Linked DNA regions of Homo sapiens. The protein of the gene in region 3 purifies or fractionates together with the protein of the main gene of each other region. This does not show direct contact. Each region holds a gene or a part of one and is shown on either strand. Other genes may lie near its edges.

Region 1 (7,383 bases), on a different chromosome or scaffold from region 3:
GGTTGTTGATGACTGAAGTGCAGGTGCAGAGGCAGGTTGCCACTGTTTTGACCCCCCACCAGCTGAACCTCTTTCCAAGGGTTTTAAAAGAATAGCACCTGTTTTGTTTGTTTGCTTCCCTTTTACTCCATTTATGAGTCAGATATTGAAGGATTAGGATATTCAAAAGCAATCACTTAGGCAGGGGAAAGTAGAAAGCTACTGCATATAACCAGGGAAAGACACAGGCTAAGAAAAGACCTGAGAAAACCTTAAGCTTTCACCCGAGGCTGATCCTGATCCCCAGCACAGAGACAATTACAAAAGCCCAGCAAACATGGGGGCAGGAGAATCTTATTTTCAGATTCACCACATTATGAGATTCAAATGTTCAATTTTCAACAACAACAAATCATAAGGATTTAAAGTGAAGCCAAATGTGGTGGCATGTGGTTGTAGTCCCACTTAATTGGTTGTTACTGGGCAACATAGTGAGACCCCATCTCTAGTTGAAAAATAAAATTTTTAAAAAAATCACAAGACATACAAATAAACAGGAAAGTATGGTCAATTCAGAAGAACAAAATAAATCAACTCAAACTATTCCCACAGAAGCCAAGATAGATGTCTGAGTTAATAGACAAAGGCTTTAAAACAACTATTTTGAAGTCGTTCGAAGAACTAACAGGGCTGGGCGTGGGGTGGCTCACGCCTGTAATCCCAGCGCTTTGGGAAGCCAAGGTGGGCAGATCACCTGAGGTCAGGAGTTCGAGACCAGCCTGGCCAACATGGTGAAACCCTGTCTCTACTAAATACAAAAATTAGCTGGGCATGGTGGCGTACGCCTGTAATCTCAGCTTTTCAGGAGGCTGAGGGAGGAGAATTGCTTGAACCTGGGAGGCGGAGTTTGCAGTGAGTTGAGTTCCTGCCACTGCTCTCCAGCCTGGGTGACAGAGTGAGACTCTATCTCCAAAAAAAAACAAACAAACAGAAAAAGGACTAAAGGAAGACATGAACAAAGTCAGGAAAACAATGTATGAATAAAATTAGACTATCATTAAAGAGAAATTATAAAAAGGAGCTGAGGCCAGGTGTGATGGCTCATGCCGGTAATCCCAGCACTTTGGGAGGCCAAGGCTCGTGGATCATGAGGTCAGGAGTTCGAGACCAGCCTGGCCAACATGGTGAAACCTCATCTCTACTAAAAATACAAGAACTAGCTGGGTGTGGTGGCATGCCTGTGTTCCCAGCTACTCAGGAGGGTAAGGCAGGAGAATCACTTGAACCCAGGAGGTGGAGGTTGCAGTGCACCCAGATTGCACCACTGCACTCCAGCCTGGGTGACAGAGCGAGACTCTTAGAAAAAAAAGGAGCTGAAATGAAATTCTAGACCTGAAAGATACAGTAACTGAAATGAAAAATTTACATAGAGGGGTTCAAAAACAGATTTGAATGAGCAGAAGAAAGAACCAGCAAATTTGAATATATTTCTTTGTAAAATACCCGCGGAACCCTGTTCCTTCGTTTTACCTCCTGCTTCCTTAGCTCAAGCCTTCCTCATCTTAGGCAGCCTCCAAACTATTCTATCAACCTCCCCTTTTCCCTGCTCTAGTTTTACTAGAGTGATCTTTAAAAAAACCCCAAATCTAATATTGTCACTGTCCTTTAAAATATCCAAGGGCACCCGTGTGTCTATAGAGTGAACTTCAGTTTCCTTATTTTAGCATTCAAGGACCTTCCTATTTTGGCTCCAGCCTACTACATTGCTTTATTTCACACCAGCCCCACATTCCATTCATATACTGTAACCACATTTTCTTGGGTACAAAGTCACTTACTGAAAAAAAGTTGAGCATATTTGGAAACCAAAATTCATTTTCTGTGAATGGGATATCAATATATAGCATTGGTAGGCATTGAAACAGACTATAGTCTATTTTTAAAATGGATTAGATGATAAAAACAACATGTATGTCATCACTAATCCAGTGGTCAATATTAGCATAACTCTGTAAGATACAATAAATGTTATATCTATTGTAGATACAATGTTATGTATCTAACATAATATCTAACATGTTAGATTCATAACGTTGTATGTAATATAATGAAACATGAAGTATAACCTGTCACTTGTGAGGTATACTAGTCTGATATGTTTGACTTGAATCCACTGAGTCTTCAAATATAACTTTCTTGTTCAAGAAATACAAGGCTTGCAGGAACAAGCTCAATGACTTCATGAGGAAGCAACCACTCAGATAAAAACATTTTGCACTTCAAGTGGCCTGATTTCTACAGTGAACAAGAATCTTTTAATTTTTTTTTAAGTGCCATAATTAAAAAGTCAAGGGATGTAACCAGATGGAATGTATGGTCCTGAATTGGATAATTTGGGTATACTGGTTGTAGAAAAATATAATTTGGTCAACAGAATATTTGATTGTAGTTAGGTATTATGTGAGAGGAAATTTTCCTGTAACATTACTGAGTTAAGAAAGCCAACTGTAAAAATAACTTTAGATGGATAGAAAATGTGAATGTGATCTAGGAATTAGGTGAGAAGAAAATGTACTGAAATAAGGTAGATATTTTTAATTGAAAAAGGAGATGACTAAAGTGATCTCATTTTGAAAAAAAAAATACACACACACAGAAGGATATACTCTAAAGTATTAACATTGGCCCTGGGAATGCCATGGTTTTTTTTTGTTTTTCATTAAAACATAGAGACACGGTCTCACTATGTTGCCCAGGCTGGTCTCGAACTCCTAGGCTCAAGCCATCCTCCCACCTCAGCCTCCCAAAGTGTTAAAATTACAGGCATGAGCCACCACACCTGGCCTTTTTTATTAAAAAAAATTTTTTTTAAATGCAATGTTTTCTTTTTTTGTTGTTGTTTTAGCTTGTGTCTATTCTCCAAAGCATGTTGTACTGATTGTGTAGTACAATTTTATTTAAAAATGTATGTTAAGATTTACATAAATATTTGGGGTGTCCATGAATCAAGAAATACATGAAAGTATGGGCACCAAAACGTTAAAAGTGGTTTTGTTGGGAGTTCAGGGGATTTTACTTTCTCCCTAATACTTTATTCTTTGAATATCTTGAAATGGATATTTTGTAACTGTATAAGGAGAAAGGAAGCGAAACTATTTTTCTGCAGGGGTACACCCACATCTATTGTATTAGACAAATCACAGAGGGATTGCAACAGAACACAGATTTTTCTCACTGTTTTTTCTCTGGTTGATCGGGATGCATTATCCACCAGAAAACACTGTAGACGACTCACTCACCAGGAAAAGAGCATATGCCAGTTGGAATAAATAAAGGGGAAGAGTAAGGAAGAGGCTGTAGAATTATTTTATAAATTATCAAGTCTTATGAGCCAGGTGCAGTGGTGCATGCCTATGTACAGTCCCAGCTACTCAGGAGGCTGAGGTGGTAGGATAGCTTGAGCCCAGGAGTTCGAGGGTGGAGTGTGATATGATCGTCTGTGAATAGCCACAGCACTGCATCCTGGACAAGATAGGGTCTCTTTAAAAATAAGACTTAACTAGCACTTTAATAATCATTGTTTTTGTTCCCAACTGCATTGTACATTCATTGAGGACAGGGACTTTAAACTTCATTATATTGCTGTTGCTGTGTTTCACCTTTGAATGATTTTTAAATAAAAATCTCATCTTTGAGTCACAATCTGATGTAACCTTGTCCATTTCTGTCCTCTTGTGTGCCTTAAATGCCTTTAGGCAGCTGTGTTGTACCAGTGGTTTTAGGACTTGGCAGTCGGAAGTTTTGACTTCTAGACTGGATTCTGTAACTAAAGCTAAATTACTTTATAAAAGGAGAAAAATGGTACCATTCTGACGGGTTTGTGGTGAAGCTGAAATGAGATAGCCACATAAAGAACCATCACAATCCCTGACACACCGTGCGCCCTCAGTAAATGCCAGGTGAATTTTATTACACTGTGAAGTACTGATTTTCAAACAGGACTTGCACATGAAAGGTGAGCAGGGGGATTCCTTGCTCAAGCACCAGTACTCTGGGGTTGTACCCTTTGTTAGGCTCAACAGGTACTACCCAGTCCGCTTCCATCGTCCCCAGTCCCGGCTGCAGTCACGTAGTTGGCTGTCCAACTCCAAATACACAAGACAGCCCAGGTCCAGCTCACAGCCAGTGCACTTCGCGCAGGCGCACAGTCCTGAGGCGGGCTGAAAGCCCAGGTGGGGCTCGGAGAAGAGGAAGCTCCGCCTCGCTTCCCGGTATTGGGCCAATAGGGTCGCTCGTCATGGTCGCAGACCTATGAGACGGGGCAGGGGGCGGGGCGGAGGGCGGAAGAAGTCGCTCTCACGTGAGTAAAGGGGTGGGGGGGCGGGGACAGGGCGGTTTGGGAGGCCCAGGCGGCGGAGCCTCCGGGACGGCGAGCGGCGGGCGGCGGAGGAGGAGACGGCAGGTCGGGTAGGGCCGTGTTTCCCCTCCTCCTCCTCCCACCCTCCTACCTACCAACCCCAGGGGTATTTTCCGACGGCCCCTGCGGGGAGCCAAGCTGTCTTCTCATCCCGCGGGGTCGGGCCAGTGGAGCTGCTCTCAGCTCCCTCGACGGGCCGAGTTCTGAGGGGAGCCGTGATTGGGGGGAGGGGGAACTGCGACGGAGGGGAGAGGGCGCATGCGCAGGCTGGGCCGCTCTGGGAGCCCCTGCCCAAACCGGTTCCCCCTGTCTGTGTGGGTGCCGGTCTTCTGAGTCTTGCGTTTTTGGCCCTCCCTCTGGTCCCCCAGCAAAGCCGGTTTGTGTCTTGACTTTAATGTTTTATGCTTGGTCCTATTTGGGAATCCAGCCGCTCCCCCCCGCCTCAGTTTCTCCCCATTGCTCACTAGGCCTGTATCTGTGACTTAAGCTAGCCTGGGCCTCAGGCTGTCCTGGGCTGCGCCTAAATTTCAAAGACTTGCTAGTTTTCACTGTCGCTTTGCCATCTCAGGTTGGTCTTTCAGTCTCATTTCCCCGTCTGCAATTAAAGCGTTCTTGGCATCCCAGTCTTCTCATCTCCTTGAAGCAGCTACCCCAGTACCTCATCGCTGTGTCTTTTGATTATCCGCACCCTTAGGGTTTTACGTGTTGAGCCAAAGGATAACCTCAAGACTTCCAGGAGTTCGCTGTCCATTGCCTGGTAGTACTTTGGTCTCTGCTCTTCTGCATCCAGACTGTTTATCATCTGCTCCTGCGTTTCACGCATCTGCATACCTTTGGTTACTCGAGAATTCTTTTTTGGAAACAAATGTCCTAGGAGACCGTGTTAAGTGATCATGCTGCTAGTGTTCCCGCTACTAGTGCTCCGTTAGTTTTAAATCATGTTCCAACTTGAATTTGAGGTCTTTTGACTTTCGTTGGCTTTTTGTCAGGGAAAAAAACCTGTTAGGGACAGGGTTTCACAATTCCTTTTATATTTCCATTCACATGTATTTACAAACGTGTGCCTGGAGTAGTAAGTACACAATAAGTGAGTTTCCAGCTGTTTTTGTTTCGGAAACAAAAAACAAAACAAAACAAAACAAAAAAACAACGGAAGGTGAATGGAATTGTGTTTGTAACATTAAACTGATGTTTGAAAAGTAGTTGGGAAAAAAAGCTTAGGTACTAAGGAGGGTTCATCCAACTTTTTTTTAAACGAAGGACGTGTTGCCTTAGTTCAAGTTTGTATAAGGTGCTATTTAATATGTATTGAAGACTTAACTAGAGCTTACTTATGAAAACTGAAAATAGGGGCCGGGTGCGTTCACGCCTGTGATCCAGCATTTTAGGAGGTTGAGGCGGGTGGATCACAAGGTCAGGAGTTCGAGACCAGCCTGTCCAATATGGTGAAACCAGGTCTCTACTGAAAATACAAAAATTAGACGGGCGTAGTGGCAGGCGCCTGTAGTCCCAGCTAATCGGGAGGCTGAGGCAACAGAATCGCTTGAACCCGGGAGGCAGAGGTTGCAGTGGGCCGATATTGTGCCATTGCACTCCAGTCTGAGCAACAGAGCGAGACTCCGTCTCAAAAAAAAAAAAAAAAAAACACAAAAAAACAAAATAGGGAAGAGAAGTCTTTATAAATCTTCCTGTGTAGAGTTCACTTTGTATTAATAAAATTTCAATCCATGATTGATTTTTATGTATTGGTAACATTTAAAATTCATATGTAATTTTAATTCAAGATATTAACTCAGATTCATAATTAAAGTTGAAATATTTGTGGCGTGAGGTGATTCATGCTTGTAATCCCAACACTTTGGGAGTCTGAGGTGGGAGGACTACTTGAGTTGAGAAGTTCAAGACTGCAGTAAGCTATGATGGGTGCCACTGCACTCTAGCCTGGGTAACACAGCCAGTTCCCATCAAAAAATAAAAAATAAAAAAACAACAAAAAATCTGAGATATAGTCATGTTGTGGTGCACTTTCTTTTTTTTTTTTTTTTTTTTTTTTTTTTTGAGACTGAGTTGTGCTCTTGTTGCCCAGGCTGGAGTGATCTTGGCTCACTGCAACCTCCGCCTCCTGGGTTCAAGGAACTGATTCTCCTGACTCAGCTTGGGATTACAGGCGTGTGCCACCACGCCTAGCTAATTTTTTGTATTTTTACTAGAGACGGGGTTTCATCATGTTGGCCAGGCTGGTCTTGAACTCCTGACCTCAGGTGATCCACCTGCCTCAGCCTCCCAAAGTGCAGGGATTACAGGCGTGAGCCACTGCGCCCGGCCACACTTTCTTTTAATTGAGTGTTATGATTCAGTTTACAGTTAACGCATTGACATTAATAGGTATATATTTGTTTGGAAAGTTAACCTATCAGCTATGTGCATTTTGGCATTTTTGGCATAGTATTTTGTTTGCAGTTTATAAGAGTTGTAGTAATGTAGTGGGAACAGAGACACCTGTTTCCTACCTTTTCTGCTGCATATTGAGAGAACTGTATTATGCACTTTATCTACATGAGGGGCATGGTTTTCCACACAATTTATTAACTGAACTTTGTAGCCCAGCTTCTTTTAAAGAAGTCTGTTGGCTGGGCGCGGTGGCTCACGCCTGTAATCCCAGCACTTTGGGAGGCCAAGGCAGGCGGATAACAAGGTCAGGAGATCGAGACCATCCTGGCTAACACTGTGAAACCCCGTCTCTACTAAAAATACAAAAAATTAGCCAGGCGTGGTGGCAGGTGCCTGTAGTCCCAGCTACTCGGGAGGCTGAGGCAGGAGAATGGCGTGAACCCGGGAGGCGGAGCTTGCAGTGAGCCAAGATCGCACCACTGCACTCCAGCCTGGGCGACAGAGTGAGACTCCGTCTCAAAAAAAAAAGAAGTTTTTGTTTTTTATTCAGTATATTTCCAGCTAAAGGAAAGCCTCCTTTGGAGGTCTCATTATTT
Region 2 (7,271 bases), on a different chromosome or scaffold from region 3:
TCTGTGCTCCAACAAGTTCCCTTTTTAAAAAAGGAAAAGAGGCCAGTTTATTTTGTGATTGTGAGCAAAAAAGAAATGACAAAGGCATCCATCTCCTATTCTCTGCCTTTTGCTCTCAGGAACAGACATTTTTTTCCTTCAGAAGAGATGTGGCTTATTCTAGATGCAGGGGTAATAGTGATGTCTGGGTCGAGGTCTGCATCCTTCACTCTTGGGGAGAGCTGGAGGCAATAGAGCCGGTGTAAGGACACCATCCAACTGTGGCAGCCCTCAGTGGCGCCCTCTTCTAGCTCCTGTGCACCCCGCAGGCCAGCCCTCACTGCTTCCCAAGGCTCTGAGAGCTCACATGCAACCTTTTTTCTCATTGGCTTAATTTCTCTTAAGACCACTTCACAAAAGCTCCATTGTAATCACTATCTGCTCAACTGCTTTCTCTTACTTACAAGTTTAGTAAACACAAACATTCTTCTGTCTAGGTCTTACTGACCTGTAGAAAGTTAACTGATGAATGGTACATTTTAAGTCAAAACATACTCTCTGAACCCCAAACATAGTAGAGCTTTTGGTACTCTTTCCAAAAAGAAGAAAATCATTACACTATTCTATATGGAAAAATTCCAATATATAAGCTGATGCAAATTTTGCCTTGCAAAAAAATCTCAATACCTGTGTTTAGATAAGTACAAATGAAACTTTAAGAAATTCCAGTATCACTGTTTCTCAAACTTGGATATCGTTCAGATCCTTTGTAAGGGGAAAAGATTCTCACAGATATCTAGAGTTAGCTTATAATTTTTTATAATGTTGCATACATATATGTGTATGTATATATGCAAACACAAAACTAAGAGCTCCTGATTTTTATAGATTTTATGCATCTATAAAACTAAAAAAATAAATTGAATACAAACAAAACTACCAAATGAGGAAATGCAAATCTACAATTTTGATTTAATATAAGGAATGATATTTTGCTGGAGCCAATATTCACATGAATATTGTAATACTGTGTGATGACTCAATTCTCCCACTACCCTTTGTTAGTGCAGCACACCACAATATAATTTGCCTATAACTTGGTGTGACCACATCATTTATTTTAAACATCATTCTCTGTTTTTTTTTCCTCACAAGTCTGTAACAATTCACTCAGTACTATTTGCAATCACAAATCCAGCAGTGAAACTGCATTCCCAGAATAATTATAAAGGGCTGATAAATTTATATAGATATTCCACTCCAATAGTAATCCCATACAGGTTAAAATGAGAGACCATTTCATCTATCATATTGGCAAATCTTTTTTTTTTTAAGATAAAATAAATGCCAGTGGGGGTGCGTGTGATGGGCACCACTGAGAGCTTCTGGTGAGAATGAAAACTGGCCTGACATTTCTGGAAGGCAGTTTGACCACGGGTATTCACAGACTTAAGAGTTTTCAAAGCCTTTGAATCAGTAATTCCACTTATAGGTTGCTAGCCTAAGGAAGGAAATAATTTTAAAATGTGGGCAAAGATAATGTGTAAGGATATTCATGGCAATGTTCTTGTTAGCAGTAAAAAATAGGAACTCCTGTATATGTCCAAAAATAGTGGAATAATGAAATACATGAAACTATATCATTAATAATTATGTAGCCATGACAAATAATATTTGTGAACAATTTTAGTGATGGTGGATAGTGCTCAAGATATAATAGTGAAAAAAAGAGGATGGATTATTAACTATATATCCTATAAATATATAGAATACACAACTAAATATTCTATGCAGTTCTATTATGTCACAAATGTAAATATACAAAGAAAAAGATCCAACGGATAAGCCAAAACTATAAGTGCCTTTTTCTGGGATGTGGGTAATTTCTGCTTTATTTTAAAATATTTCCTGAATTTTCCAAGTTTTCTACAATAAGCACACATTTTTTTTTATTATTATTAAGGCAAACAGCCCTGGAAAGGATAGCATTTGAGATTACTTCCTGCTGTGAACAGAGGTACATAAAAGGGCTGTTACTTTGGAGAGGTCTCAGAGTCAGTCTGGACCATCCTAAAATATTCTTTATTATAAGTTGAAATCTGCCTCTCTGCAACGTCCATACACAGGTCGTAGGCTTGCTTTCTTTCTACAGCTATTCAGAATAAGTCTATGAGTGTTGCAGAGATATTTCAAAAGGGTCAGTTTTTTAAAGTAATGGCAAAAACCGCAATTACTTGTGTACCAACCTAATAGCTACCTTTCCACTGCTCACCCCTATGACCCTGCTCTCCCCTACTTCTGCTAATTTCTTTTCCTCTGGATACTTTCAAAAGTTCTCTGTCACACAGGCTTTCTGGTCTCACCAGCTTGCTTATCCTTCTGTAGACAGTCTCTAGTTTAATAGCTTTACTAGAAAAATGTGATATTCAGAACCAAAGGCCGGTTTCCAGCCTTCTAAAGCACAGCTATCATCTTGCCACTCCTCTGCTCGAGTTCCTCTGGAGACTCTCACCAGAAGAGCAGAACACCCCAGCTTAGCGTGCAATGTCTTCCTGGATCTGGTCCTAGCCTTTCCAGCCTCATAGCCCACCACATCTCTAATACACACTACACCAGTGTCTTCAAACTATGGGTTGCTCTGCATCACTGAGTACTGAAATGAATTCAGTAACCAGCACTTAAAAAAAGAGAATAGAATAGAAAATACCAAGTTGCATTGTACACTCTAAGGGCAATTACTGTTTCAGCATATCTATCTATCTATCTATCTATCTATCTATCTATCTATAATGCACACTCACACATATGCGCATACTGTGTGTGTTTTTATACTAGGCCATGGCTGAAATGTATCTTTTTTTTTTTTTGAGACGGAGTCTCACTCTGTTACCCAGGCTGGAGTGCAATGGCACAATCTTGGCTCACTGCTGCAACCTCTGCCTCCTGGGTTCAAGCAATTCTCCTGCCTCAGCCTCCCGAGTAGCTGGGACCACAGGTGCATGCCACCACACCTGGCTAATTTTTGTATTTTTAGTAGAGACAGGGTTTCTCCATGTTGGTCAGGCTGGTCTTGAACTCCTGACCACCTGCCTCAGCCTCCCAAAGTGCTGGGATTGCAGGCATGAGTCACCGCACCTGGCCTGAAATGTATTTCTTACTGTGAGGGATGATTAAAAGAAGGTTGAAAGCCACTGGCCACACCACGGCTACATCAGGCCAATAACTAGTTCCCAAACTTGCTTTGTACTGCCTTTGATCCCACCCTTCCCTCAGCTAGGCATTCTCCCTGCTCTCTGCTACTGAAATCCTTCAAGGCCCTGACAAGATACCACATCCTTCCTTGAGTGTTTCACCCTTTCCCCCTGTCTGTGCGAAAATGGTGGTTCAATGTCTTTCTTTATATTACTCAAAACAGCCTGCCTTGTATTTTGTTATGTCTGTACACTGAATTCTTAGAAAATAAATACCTGGAGGACAGGGCAACACCTTCGGGTCTTCTGAAGGCCCAGAAGTCTAGTGAACCTAGCTGATGCTCAAAAATGTCTGCCCAACCGAATATTTTCTGTATCTCCTTCCAAGAGTATCTTCTGGTGTTCTTCCTCCTGTTTTCTTGACCTATATAGCCCCCAGCAGGCCTAAAATCTGTGTCCTGGGGCTAATGTTACGTACAGTGATGACTCTAGAAACCAGTCTGTTCTGAAAGCTTTCACCTTTCTTCAGGAGCGATAAGAGAAATAAGCATACGTTTTTGTTCATTTTTCAGATGTTTCCTTTATTTGAGACTATGTTTCTCCTGTATTTTTGGTGTTAAGATGTATTTTGGGGAGCAACACTGATGATATATTACAAGATAATAGTTGGTATTTTAGTATGTGTGTGCCTATTGTACTTATTTGACACAATAAATAGGCAATTCTGAGTTCATCTTTTAAAAAAAAAAAAAAGTTAAAAAAAATTTACTGGTTGCAAACTCCAAAAGGCAGGGAATCAACTTCCCTTCTGGGCTGGCTGCAAGTAAGTTCACTTTCTTAAAGGAGGAGCTTTCTCCTCTCACCTCAAGGACTGTTATTTATTTGTCTGCGCTACTCTTTCGACGTTTCCATTCTCTTGGTCCTCAAGATGTGAATCACCCATTTTTTCCGTAGGGGGGAAGACGGCGTATCTCTGGCCCTTTAAATAGGGGCGTGGTGAAGAGGCGCGGACCGCCCAGGAGGGGGAGCAGTGCGAGGAGGAAAGCGGAAGCGCTGCCCGCAGTGGTAGGTAGTGCGCGTGCGTGAGGCTAGAGCAGTGGGTGCGGTCACGTGGGCCGGCGGTCCACGGCCGGAATGGCAGCAAGCTCAGGTAACGAGTTTCCAGAGAGCGGGCCCGTGGAAGGAGACAGGATTGAGGGGCCGTATTCAGGGTAGGAGGAGAGCGCGCGACAGGTCTCTGAGCCTCGGCGTCTCCTCCCCGCGCGACAGCGGCGGGACCTCGGGGAGCGAACAGAGCAGCCCCTGACGGGCTAACCGGACCCGAGCCACGGGCCGGGCGGGGTTGATTCTCGAGTGGAGGGGCGTGTCGTACGTTGGCCCGGAACTGGGTCGGGCAATTTCCACTTACTGGTTCCAAATGAATGTGAAAATTCAAATGGGCTTAAGTAAAAAGGGATTTATTGGCTCCAAACCTGGAAGGGGCTGAGGTATCACTAAATCCAGTGACTCCGGTGATGTATTTGTGTATCTCTCCCTTTCTGCAAAGGGCCAGTAACCCCTCAGTTCCCTATCTACTTTGCGACTATAATTGCAAGCCTCATTCTGTCCTGTTACAGTCGTGCGGCAATTAGGCTGAGGGACTGGCGCGCCCGCTCCCCCGACTGTGAGCCTAGGCGGCGGGTGTCATGCCCCTCCCCACTCCCGGGCGGAACAGGTGTGTAGCCGGTCTGTCGGGCCTGGGAAACAGGTGTGGACCCCTTTAGCCTCCAGGGACTGATATCAAGGTGCCTGAGCCTGAGGCTTAGATGGGGTGTCCACCTCTTAGGATCGGTGCGCACCCTGTGAGGCTGGTTCCAGTTTGTCTCCGCGTGCAAGTTGTGCACCAGAGTGAGGGCAGCAGGGTGAAAGGTGGGCCTCTGAAGTTCGAGGCTACTCCTGTGCCTTGGCCAGTTCTTTGTGCTTGGCATCTGGGGAAGGAGGGAAACAGCTGCTCAGAGTGTCTGGGTGTACAAAATGGGGGTGCTTTACAGGAGGATAGGGTGGGAGGAGGTAGGATCGGTGAGAGGTTCCATGGCCGTGGGTTATCAGGAATAGCTAGCTGGGGAGCCTTCTTTAAATAAGCAGGCCCCCTCCACTTCTTAGATTCTTGTTAGAATGAATAGGAAGGCTTCTGGCCTCTGCACCATCCACCCTCTACCATACTCTACTTTCCCCTACTGAAAAACCCCAAAACCCAAGCAAAACAAGCATGGATGTTAGCTTGTGGTGCTAAACCTTACTCCAAATGTCTGCATTTGGGAGACAATTACATGTTAATTGTCTGTGTATGTCTATGTCTGCCTGTGTGGGTTTGAGGTATATCTAATATAAATGTGGATGGAGAATCTGCATATGTTTGTGTAAGACGTGGGTTTGCTCATGGTTAAATTTAAGCACAGAATAGGTATTGAATCCTCTGGCAATAGCTGGCCTGTTCCATAGAATATGCAATAAAGATAAATGGAAAAAAAATTCGTTGAACTACTGGGCTTTATATGGTCAAAGAGGCATTTGTGAGAAAATTCTTTCCAGAGCTCTAACAGAGTAATATGTTGATTTTTTCTTTATATTTAATATATTTGCTTCGTATCTGGACCATTGTCAGCAGATGGATGTTTTCTGTCTTCCAGAATATTGGGACATGTTGGTGATTCTTAGCTGTATCTCACTATTCCATTGACATTTCAACCAGTGTGACACAAAATGTCAGTTATGTATGTGAATGAGAAGTAAGATCTTTTGAATTTAATGAAGTATGTTTAACTTTGGATCTATTGATAGCTTTCATAGAGTTTAGATCGTATGTTCTCTTGATCCACAGCTGTAGGTGTCATCGGTACATAGTGGTAAGATCAAACTGTTGTATTCTTAACTGAATCTTGAATGAATATTTGACTTATCTTCACGCTGTATGACATTATTAAATGTGTTCTGTGTTTTAGCAAGGAAATATAGCTTTGCGTTGGATTTTTCACTGTTATGAATTTCTTAGGTTTACTGTAATAGCAATTATACTTTTTTAGTCAAAGATATTTCTGTTGCAAGTGACAGAAAATTCAAATGGGCTTAAGCTAAAAGGGATTTATTGGCTCCAAACCTGGAAGGGGCTGGGGTATCACTATATCACTAAATCCAGTGACTCCAGTGATGGAGTACTTGTGTCTCTCTCCCTTTCTGCAAAGGACCAGTAACCCCCAGTTCCCTATCTCCTCTGCAACTGTAATTGCAAGCCTCATTCTTCCTGTTACAGTCATGGGACAGTTAGGGGATATGTTCTGAGAAATGTGTGGTTAGGCAAATTTTGTCATTGTGCATGCATCATAGTGTACTTACACAAACCTAGATGGTGTAGTCTGCTACACACCTAGACTATGTGGGATGGCCTGTTGCTGCTAGGCTATAAACCAGCACAGCATGTTACTGTACTGAATACTGTAGGTGGTTGTAACACAATGGCCAAGTATTTGTATATCTAAACATAGAAAAGGTACAGTAAAAATACAGTTTAAAAGATTGAAAAATGTGAACCTGTGTGGGGCACTTACCATGGATGGAGTTTGCAGGACTGGAAGTTGCTGTGGGTGAGGCAGTGAGTAGTGAGTGAGTGTGAAGGCCTAGGACATTATTGTACACTACTGTAGACTTTTTGAACACTGTACACTTAGGCTACACTGAATTTATTAAAAATTTTTTCTTTCTCCAATAATAAATTAACCTTAGCTTACTGTAATGTAACTTTTATGTTATAAACTTTTTAATTTAAAAAAGTTTTTAACTTCTTTGTGATAAAACTTAGCTTAAAATACAAACACATTGTACAATTAGCTGTACAAAAATATTTTCTTTATATCCTTATTCTGTTAGCTTTTTTCTATTTCAAAAAATTTTAATCTTTAAAAACGAAGACGCAAACACACACATTACTCTAGGCCTACACAGAGTCAGGAAGGTCCCGGTGGAATGTCTTTAGAGGCAGTAACACATAGGGAACTGTCATCTCTTATGATAACAGTGCCTTCTGGAATACCTCCTGAAGGACCTGCCTGAAACTGTTTTACAGCT
Region 3 (7,934 bases):
AGGGAATCAGAGAGGAGAGCATAACCCAGAAAGTGAGGACGCCCTGGCGAGGGGAAGGGTCTGGAGGGCAGCCCCACTGACCTGCTCCCTGCCTGTGGAGCCGAAGCGTGGGCTCTGGGCTGGGCTTGAGGGCGAGTGCTCAGGGTGGGGCCCTGCTGTCCTGGCAGCCGCTGGCTGAACCCTCCAGACTGGAGTGAGTGGAACCAGGAGTAACTCATACATCTGCCCACTTGCTCATCAACAAACAGGGAACACCTGCTGTACAAACCCACAATGCTGGGCATTCACTGGAGGGGCAGACATCAAATAATCTCTCTAAATATTGTATCCTATCGCATCATATTATATTAAGCTAAGAATAGTTCTCCAAGAAAGTGGCAACACCTCCTTGTAAAGGGAAGTTTAAAGAACTCTGAGCCTGGTTGGTCTGAGAAATTGGAGGATGGCAACAGTCAGGGCCCCAGGAGAGGAGAAAGAGACACCTCCTGGAAGAACTGGTCAGAAGCAGAAGGGAGAGGCTGGTGGCCTGTCTCTGTGAGCCCCACCTGCCTGGGGTGGGAGGGGGCCCGGGCAGGGCTATGGCATGCGCTGGTGTGTGCCTGCCTGGGGTGGGAGGGGGACCCGGGCAGGCTGCGGCACGCACTGGTGTGTGCCCGTCTCTTGGACAAACCATCTGAGATGTTCTTCCAGCTGCTCTGCCTCCATCGCTGAGCCTCCTGCTGAGCTGAGTAGGGTCCCCGGCTGGCCTGGCACTAAACTCTGCTTAGATATGTCCAAGGGTCTCTGCTTTTGCCCCAGCGAGGAAAGGCAGGATGCTTCTCCAGACTGGGAGGGCTTTCCTAAGGCAGACACCTGAGCCAAGACAGGTGGAAGCTGGGAGGCATGTGCCTGGGGTGGAGGGTGCCTGGGGCGGAGCGTGCCTGGGGCTTCCAGAGATCAGCAAGGCTGAGGCATGAGAGGCAGAGTGGAGGCTGCGAGACGGGTCCAGGAGGAGACTCAGGCCCAGATCAGGTGTGGCCTCGCATGTAGGGTGACCATGTGCTTCACATAATATGTCCAAACCAGGACATTTCCAAGAATAGGGGGACACGAGTAACGGTTACGCTGGGGCAATGGGCAAAGCCAGGCCAGGCCCAGCATGGCAGGTGGTTGCCTGTTCAAAGGTGTAAACCAAAATGTATTTGAGGCAGGTCTCAATCAACTTAGAGGTTGATTTTTGCCAAGGTTAAGGACATGGCCCAGGGCACAGCCTCAGGAGGTCCCAAGAACACACACCCAAGGTGACAGGGTATAGCTTGGTTTTATACATTTTAGGGAGACTGAAGTTACAAGAAAAGACATAAAGCAATATCTGGAAGGTATACATTGATTTGGCCCAGAAAGGTGGGACATCTTGAAGCGGGGTGTGGGGCCTTCCAGGTCACAGGTGGATTACAGGATTTCCTGATTGGCCGTTGGGTAAAACAGAGTTAAGATCTGCCTGAAGACTTGATATCAGCTTGAGTGAAAATAAAGGGGGTTGTGGAAGCCAAGGTTCTTGTGGATGAAGCCTCCGGCTAGCAGGCTTCAGAGAGAGTGAATGTGAATGTCTACTATCAGGGCCTTGAAAGGTGTCAGACTCTCCAGAAAGACCTAGTGACGGACAGGGATTCTCCACAGAGTGCAAGATTCCCCAACAGACAGCTTTGCTGGGCCATTTCAAAATCTGTCAAAGAAATATATTTCTTCAGGGCCTGCTGGCCGTCATGTGATGCTCTACTAGAGTCTGGTGGGAATTTGCTATCTTATTGCTATGAACAGTCTGTTTGGTCAGCCTTAGGAGCTCTGTTTTTATGTTAATGTTGGTCATGAACTCCAGGAAAGGAGGGTGTAGTGAGGCCTGCCCAACCCCCTCTCCCTGTCATGGCCTGAACTCGTTTTTCAGGTTTCTTTGGGATCCCTTTGGCCAAGAGGGGAGTCCATTAAGTTGGTTGGGGGGCTTAGAATTTTATCTTTTGTTTACAAAGGCATATTGAGAACTTTGGTCATTTTTCTAAGAGCATCAGGTAACCGCAGGGTTTGGGGTGTTCAGCAAAGCCCGTGATTACACACACACTGGACCTTCAGAGAAGTGTGCCATCTAGCTACGACCACAGCCATTTCTCCTGGTCTACCCCGTCCATCGGGACGCACTGCTGCAGGGGAAGACTCACCCATCATGCAACCCCTCACTGCACCCTGGACAGTCACTTCTAAAATGCAGGCCCTCAACAAGGTATTGACGTGTGCATTAATCACCTTGATTATTACAGAGCCCCTCTGCGGTGGAAGGGCAGGTGCTGTCATTCCTACAAATGCATAGAGCTCAAAGTTCATCGCTCACCCAGGTGGAACCGGGAGAAAAAGATGCGTTTGTCGAAGGCACCCAGCGCCACGAGCTTTCTTCACAAGCCAAGCAGCCCGCCTAAGGCCCAGGTCTCCCTCTCCTCGTCTCCCACTAGATACACATGGATGAAGCCAGATAGATAACAGGTAGAGGATAGATGACAGGCAGATGACAGATAGGCAGATGATAGATGATCGATAGATGACAGGCAGATGATGGATGACAGGCAGATCACAGATATGATAGATCACAGATAGATGACAAATAGGCAGATGATAGATGACAGGCAGATGACAGATAGGCAGATGATAGATGACTGATAGATGACAGGCAGATCACAGATATGATAGATCACAGATAGATGACAAATAGGCAGATGATAGATGACAGGCAGATGACAGATAGGCAGATGATAGATGACTGATAGATGACAGGCAGATCACAGATATGATAGATCACAGATAGATGACAAATAGGCAGATGATAGATGACTGATAGATGACAGGCAGATCACAGATATGATAGATCACAGATAGATGATAAATAGGCAGATGATAGATGACAGGCAGATGACAGATAGGCAGATGATAGACTGATAGATGACAGGCAGATGACAGATAGGCAGATGATAGATTGATAGATGACAGGCAGATGACAGATAGGCAGATGATAGGTGATTGATAGATGCCAGCCAGATGACAGATAGGCAGATGATAGGTGATTGATAGATGACAGCCAGGTAGATCACAGATATGCCGGATCACAGATGATGGATAGGCAGATGATAGATGACAGATAATAGATGATAGATTACAGATAGACGATCGATAGGAAGATAATAGATGATAGGTACATGACAGATCATAGATAAATGACAGAGAGGTAGATGATAGATGATAAATAGGTAGATGGTAGGTAATAGATAGGTAATAGATCGCAGAGAGATGATAGGTAGATGATAGCTGATTGATACATGATACAGAGATGATAGGTACATGATAGATGGATAGATCATAAATGACAGCAGATGATAGATGATAAATAGGTAGATGACAGGTTATAGATAGGTAAATTACAGATGAAAGATAGGCAAATGATAGATGATAGGTACATAATAGATGGATAGATCATAGATAATAGATGACAGGTAGGTGATAGAGGAAAGGTGGATGATAGATGATAGGCGCATGATGATAGATACCTGACAGATGGATAGATGAAAGGTAGATGATGGACAGGTAGATGATAGATGACAGATAATAGATGACAGATTACAGATAGATGATCGATAGGAAGATGATAGATGATAGGTACATGACAGATCGATAGATGATACGTAGATGATGGATAGGTAGATGATAGATAATGTGGATGATAAACATCAGATGATAGAAAAATCGATATCTGTGAATACGGGGGGTGGGGGATCAGAGAGAAGCAAATGATAAGCCCAATGAGGTAAATGTTAATGACCGAATCCACAAAAAGGATAAAAAGGAGTTATTTGTAATATTCTTATTCTTCTAATTTTTGTGTAAGTTTGAAATTATTTCCAAATAAAAAATTAAAACAACACGAACTTAACTTGTATCTCTCATTCCAGTGCTTTCCACTTGCTGGGGAACGCCGAGCTCTCCTGGGTTGGTCACGCGGGCGCCTTGGGAGGCCGCGCAGTCCCGCGTGGGGCGCGGCGGGGCGGCCCCAGTGGCACCGCGTGAGTCCCCGCCCAGCGTTCCCCACCCGCCGCCGCGTTTGCGGGGAGAGAATGACCCCCGTTTTGCAAACGCAGGACACAAAACCCGCCACCCAGCTGAGGCTGGGACCCACCTATACCCCCGTCTGCGTTTTTCTCCAGCTTTCTGTTCGACCTGATGTCCTCTTTGAGGCTGCGGGGATCCCCACCAAAAAGCACTCTGATTTTCTCCATTTTCAGATGCCCCAACCTAGCCCCACTGGCTACAAAGACGGCGCGCCCACCCCGGACGGGTCTCTGGCCGCTTTCTTGGGCTTCCGCAGTTGTTTAGAAAGGCAGGTACAGGCGGCCGCAAAGGCATCCGCCCCTTCCGAGCGCACACCTGGCCCGGTCCTCCTCTCCCGGCCCCGCGCCGGCCGCTCTCCCCCAGTTCTCTCTACTCGGAGCCGGGCGCGCACTGAGCACCCCGCTTCCCAGCCCCTCCGCCCACAGATCGGGGAGGCGCGGCCGGGAGGGGGGCGTGGGCCAGGGAAGAGGGGAGGAGAACGGAGAGAGAGGCTGGGGGGGTCGAGGAGACCAGAGGGAGCGCGCGCGGCGGGGACAGAGAGCCCAGGGGCGAGGAGAGGGCGCGGGGCGCAGCGGAAGGGGAAGTGGGGGGCGGTGAGGAGGGGCGCGGAGCGGGGGTTCTCGGGGGAGGAGGGAGACGAGGATTGGGGCAGCGCGGGGCGGGGACAGGGGCGGGGGGCGGAGCGGCGGGGCGCGTGGGGGACGGGCGTGCATTGAGCGCGCTCCAGCTGCCGGGACGGAGGGGGCGGCCCCCGCGCTCGGGCGCTCGGCTACAGCTGCGGGGCCCGAGGTCTCCGCGCACTCGCTCCCGGCCCATGCTGGAGGCGGCGGAACCGCGGGGACCTAGGACGGAGGCGGCGGGCGCTGGGCGGCCCCCGGCACGCTGAGCTCGGGATGCGGACGCTGCTGCCTCCCGCGCTGCTGACCTGCTGGCTGCTCGCCCCCGTGAGTGCGCCCGCGACCCCCGCCCCACGGCGCCTCGGACCCGGTTCTCCCCTTCCGAGAAGAGCGCTCCTCCCGCCGGTCTTCGCCTTCCTCCCGGGTGCTGGAGCGCGGGCGGGGTCCGGGAGAGGGAGCGGGGTCGCCCGGGGTCCGGAGCTTCCTCCCGGAGAGCGTGAAGCGCTGAGCTCCGGTCCCGCCGGGTTGCGGGACTCGGGTTGGGAGGCTGCCTGCGCCCTTCCCCGCGCCCCACCGTCCGGGGTTTGCTGGAAACGGGATCGTTTCTTCCTGGACGCGTCAACGATGAGCTCGTTCGGGGCCGTCCCGGGAGCTGGGAGCTGCGGGCGCCTGCGCGGGCTGCGCGTTTCACGGGGAGATCGGGGTTGGCGTTGGCCGCAGATGCCTCTCGGTCCCTCCCTGTACTTACTGGTTAGTTTTAGTGTCGGGGGGACGTGGCGTCGGTTAAATAAAGTTTCCTTTTGGAAATAGTTGCTTTTTCCCAAGGGCACTGGAGGAACTAACTGCTCATAAGTTTGTTGATTAAGTGCCTTCGCACATGGAGTTCTGAATTATTCCCTCTGTGAACCTTAAAAAAAAAGGAAAGAAAAAAGAAAGAAAAAAACCCGAGCCTTGTTTCTTGCTTTCCTCTTGGAGACTGAAGCGGGTTTGCGGTGCGCGCGGTTTTCGTGCGCGTCGCAGCCGAGGCAGGTCTGGATCGATCCGCGGCCCCTCCGCAGCTGGGAGGCTGCGCTGCTGACCCGACAGTGTCATTGATTAACCGGCGACGCCCGGTCTGCAGCGGGGCTCGAGCCACACTCCCTGGCCTTGCGCGGAGGCGCAGCTCGGCTTTCCTCCCTCGAGGGTGGGCGCTTTGCGGAGCGGGTCCTTGGAAAGTAACGGGTTTTATCACGGTTAATGCTGCTTTCATTGCTAAAATGTCCTAAAAGAAGTCATTGCTGTGCATATTCCAGGAACGTCAGGTATTATTAATGTCTTTTACACTTTAACAAAGTTTTTCTTTTTACATCAATATAATTTCCTTAATTCTGAAATTTAAGCCACTTACTTGTCCTGCATGAAAACAGAGGACTTGGAGCCCAAAGTCAGTGCCTGGTGCTGGTTCAGTCACGAGCAAGAAGCAAGCTCGGGGCTCTTTTAAATGGGGCTGAAGGTGGCAGAAGTTCCAGCATTGTTTTCCCCTTAATTCTGTTAGGATATTGTGTTCCTGGTTGGAACTCTCATTGACCATTTCAATAGTAAGATAACTAAACATAGATGGCCATAGTACGCCCAACAGTATGATTCTCTTTAGTTACTACTTTAGTACAAGTAGAATTTTGGTCGGTGGTGGGGGAGGGGGAAGATCAAGACCAAAAGGATGGGTGGGGGGAGCCCTCCTTAAGCCCCCAAGGGCCGCTTGGCAGGCCTGTGCTGACTTCGCGGAGGGCGTGAAGAACAAGGTAGAAACGGTGCCTTCTGAGAGGAAGCATTGTGTAGTTCTGCCTTCTTCTCACATTAGTAGACTGTTAATTACTATCTTTGTGGCACCTTTCGCTCCCCTGATGGATCCTGACTGGAAATCGCCCCCTCTTCTCTGTGGGGCCACAATGGTGTGATTCCCCCACCTCTGCCTCCCTCCTCATCTTGCTGATTTCTTTGAATATCTCTTCCACCCCAAATTCTAGTCAAAACGATTGCAGTTTTATCTGTAGTTAGAGGGTTAAGCTTTGAACATGTACCAACACCTTTAAAAATAAAGCCCTTCTATCACGGCTCTTTCCCGGGTGGAGGCCGTCCTCGGAGGAAGCGGCACAGTCCACAGGCATCCGCTTAAACCAAACCAAAGGGTGTGAAACGGAGGAGCCGGGTATGGAGAGATGAATGGAGTAAAGAGCTCTGTTGCCTCCAAATTAGTACCGATGTATTCTGTTAGTAAGTTCATTTTCCTGCTCAGAAAAAAAATTCTATTAGATTTTGTGTTTGTTTTATAATACCTTTACAAAGTAAATAGTGAAGTTTTTAAAAAATGCCAGAAAAATCAAGGTGATTGGTTTTAAATGCATTTTGGTTTGGAAGCAGTTTAAAGCTGTGAGGTTTGGGGTTGTTTTTGTAGAATTTTTGCTTGCTTTTCTTCTTCTTGTGGAATTTTTAGTTATTAATATTTCTTTTAACCGTGAACAGGTGAACAGCATTCACCCAGAATGCCGATTTCATCTGGAAATACAGGAGGAAGAAACAAAATGTGCAGAGCTTCTGAGGTCTCAAACAGAAAAACACAAAGGTAAGGCAGAGGCTTGGTGAGTAAGAACTCCCGTGACATTCTCACCCGGGAATGCGCCTCACTCAGCTGTGGTTCAGGGTCACCACCTGCATCTTAAAAAAAAAAAAAGAAAAAGAAAGGCCACTTCCCATTGTTTGTTAATGAACTACTGGTAAAACTCAGAGAGAGTTGGATAGGTAGGGTCTTCACACACACCTTTAAAAAGATAACCTTAATCCTTAGCAGTAACAGTTTCCATGGTTTGAGATGATAGCAACAGTTACTAAAACAATTTCATGGGCTTTGTTATGCTTTGCAAAAGCAGCTTCAGTTTTCCAGGGGATAAGCATTTATCTGAATTCTTGCATTTTAAATTCTTAGCTATAGGACAGATGATTTTGATCTGGTTAAGGATGGTGGGTACTTGGCAGAAAGCAAACAGGAAAATGGGACTTTGGTTGTGCTGAAGACGGGCCTGCGGTGAACACTGTGAACGTGCAGATCGCCTTCTCCGGTTTGACAGAGGCATGCTGGGCCATCATGCTCCAACAGGGCCTGCTATCAACCTGTTTATAGACTCTGCCCTGGGATAGCACCCGGCCTATAAATAG

What was found.
Region 1: the proteins of VIPR2 (region 3) and RABGAP1 purify together in Homo sapiens (co-immunoprecipitation; 3 studies listed by BioGRID and IntAct, with this or other methods). This does not show direct contact.
Region 2: the proteins of VIPR2 (region 3) and VPS8 purify together in Homo sapiens (co-immunoprecipitation; 3 studies listed by BioGRID and IntAct, with this or other methods). This does not show direct contact.

The regions. Positions count from the first base shown.
Region 1 is NC_000009.12:122,936,648-122,944,030, forward strand, and holds the start of RABGAP1 (rab GTPase-activating protein 1), read left to right. Parts: upstream 1-4,372; 5' UTR 4,373-4,446; intron 4,447-4,491; exon of another isoform or gene 4,492-4,601; intron 4,602-7,383. UniProt on the Homo sapiens protein: May act as a GTPase-activating protein of RAB6A. May play a role in microtubule nucleation by centrosome. May participate in a RAB6A-mediated pathway involved in the metaphase-anaphase transition.
Region 2 is NC_000003.12:184,807,906-184,815,176, forward strand, and holds the start of VPS8 (vacuolar protein sorting-associated protein 8 homolog), read left to right. Parts: upstream 1-4,260; 5' UTR 4,261-4,320; exon of another isoform or gene 4,321-4,381; intron 4,382-4,601; exon of another isoform or gene 4,602-4,884; intron 4,885-5,839; exon of another isoform or gene 5,840-5,962; intron 5,963-7,271. UniProt on the Homo sapiens protein: Plays a role in vesicle-mediated protein trafficking of the endocytic membrane transport pathway.
Region 3 is NC_000007.14:159,141,856-159,149,789, reverse strand, and holds the start of VIPR2 (vasoactive intestinal polypeptide receptor 2 isoform 1 precursor), read left to right. Parts: upstream 1-4,922; 5' UTR 4,923-5,018; coding exon 5,019-5,069; intron 5,070-7,244; coding exon 7,245-7,344; intron 7,345-7,934. UniProt on the Homo sapiens protein: G protein-coupled receptor activated by the neuropeptides vasoactive intestinal peptide (VIP) and pituitary adenylate cyclase-activating polypeptide (ADCYAP1/PACAP).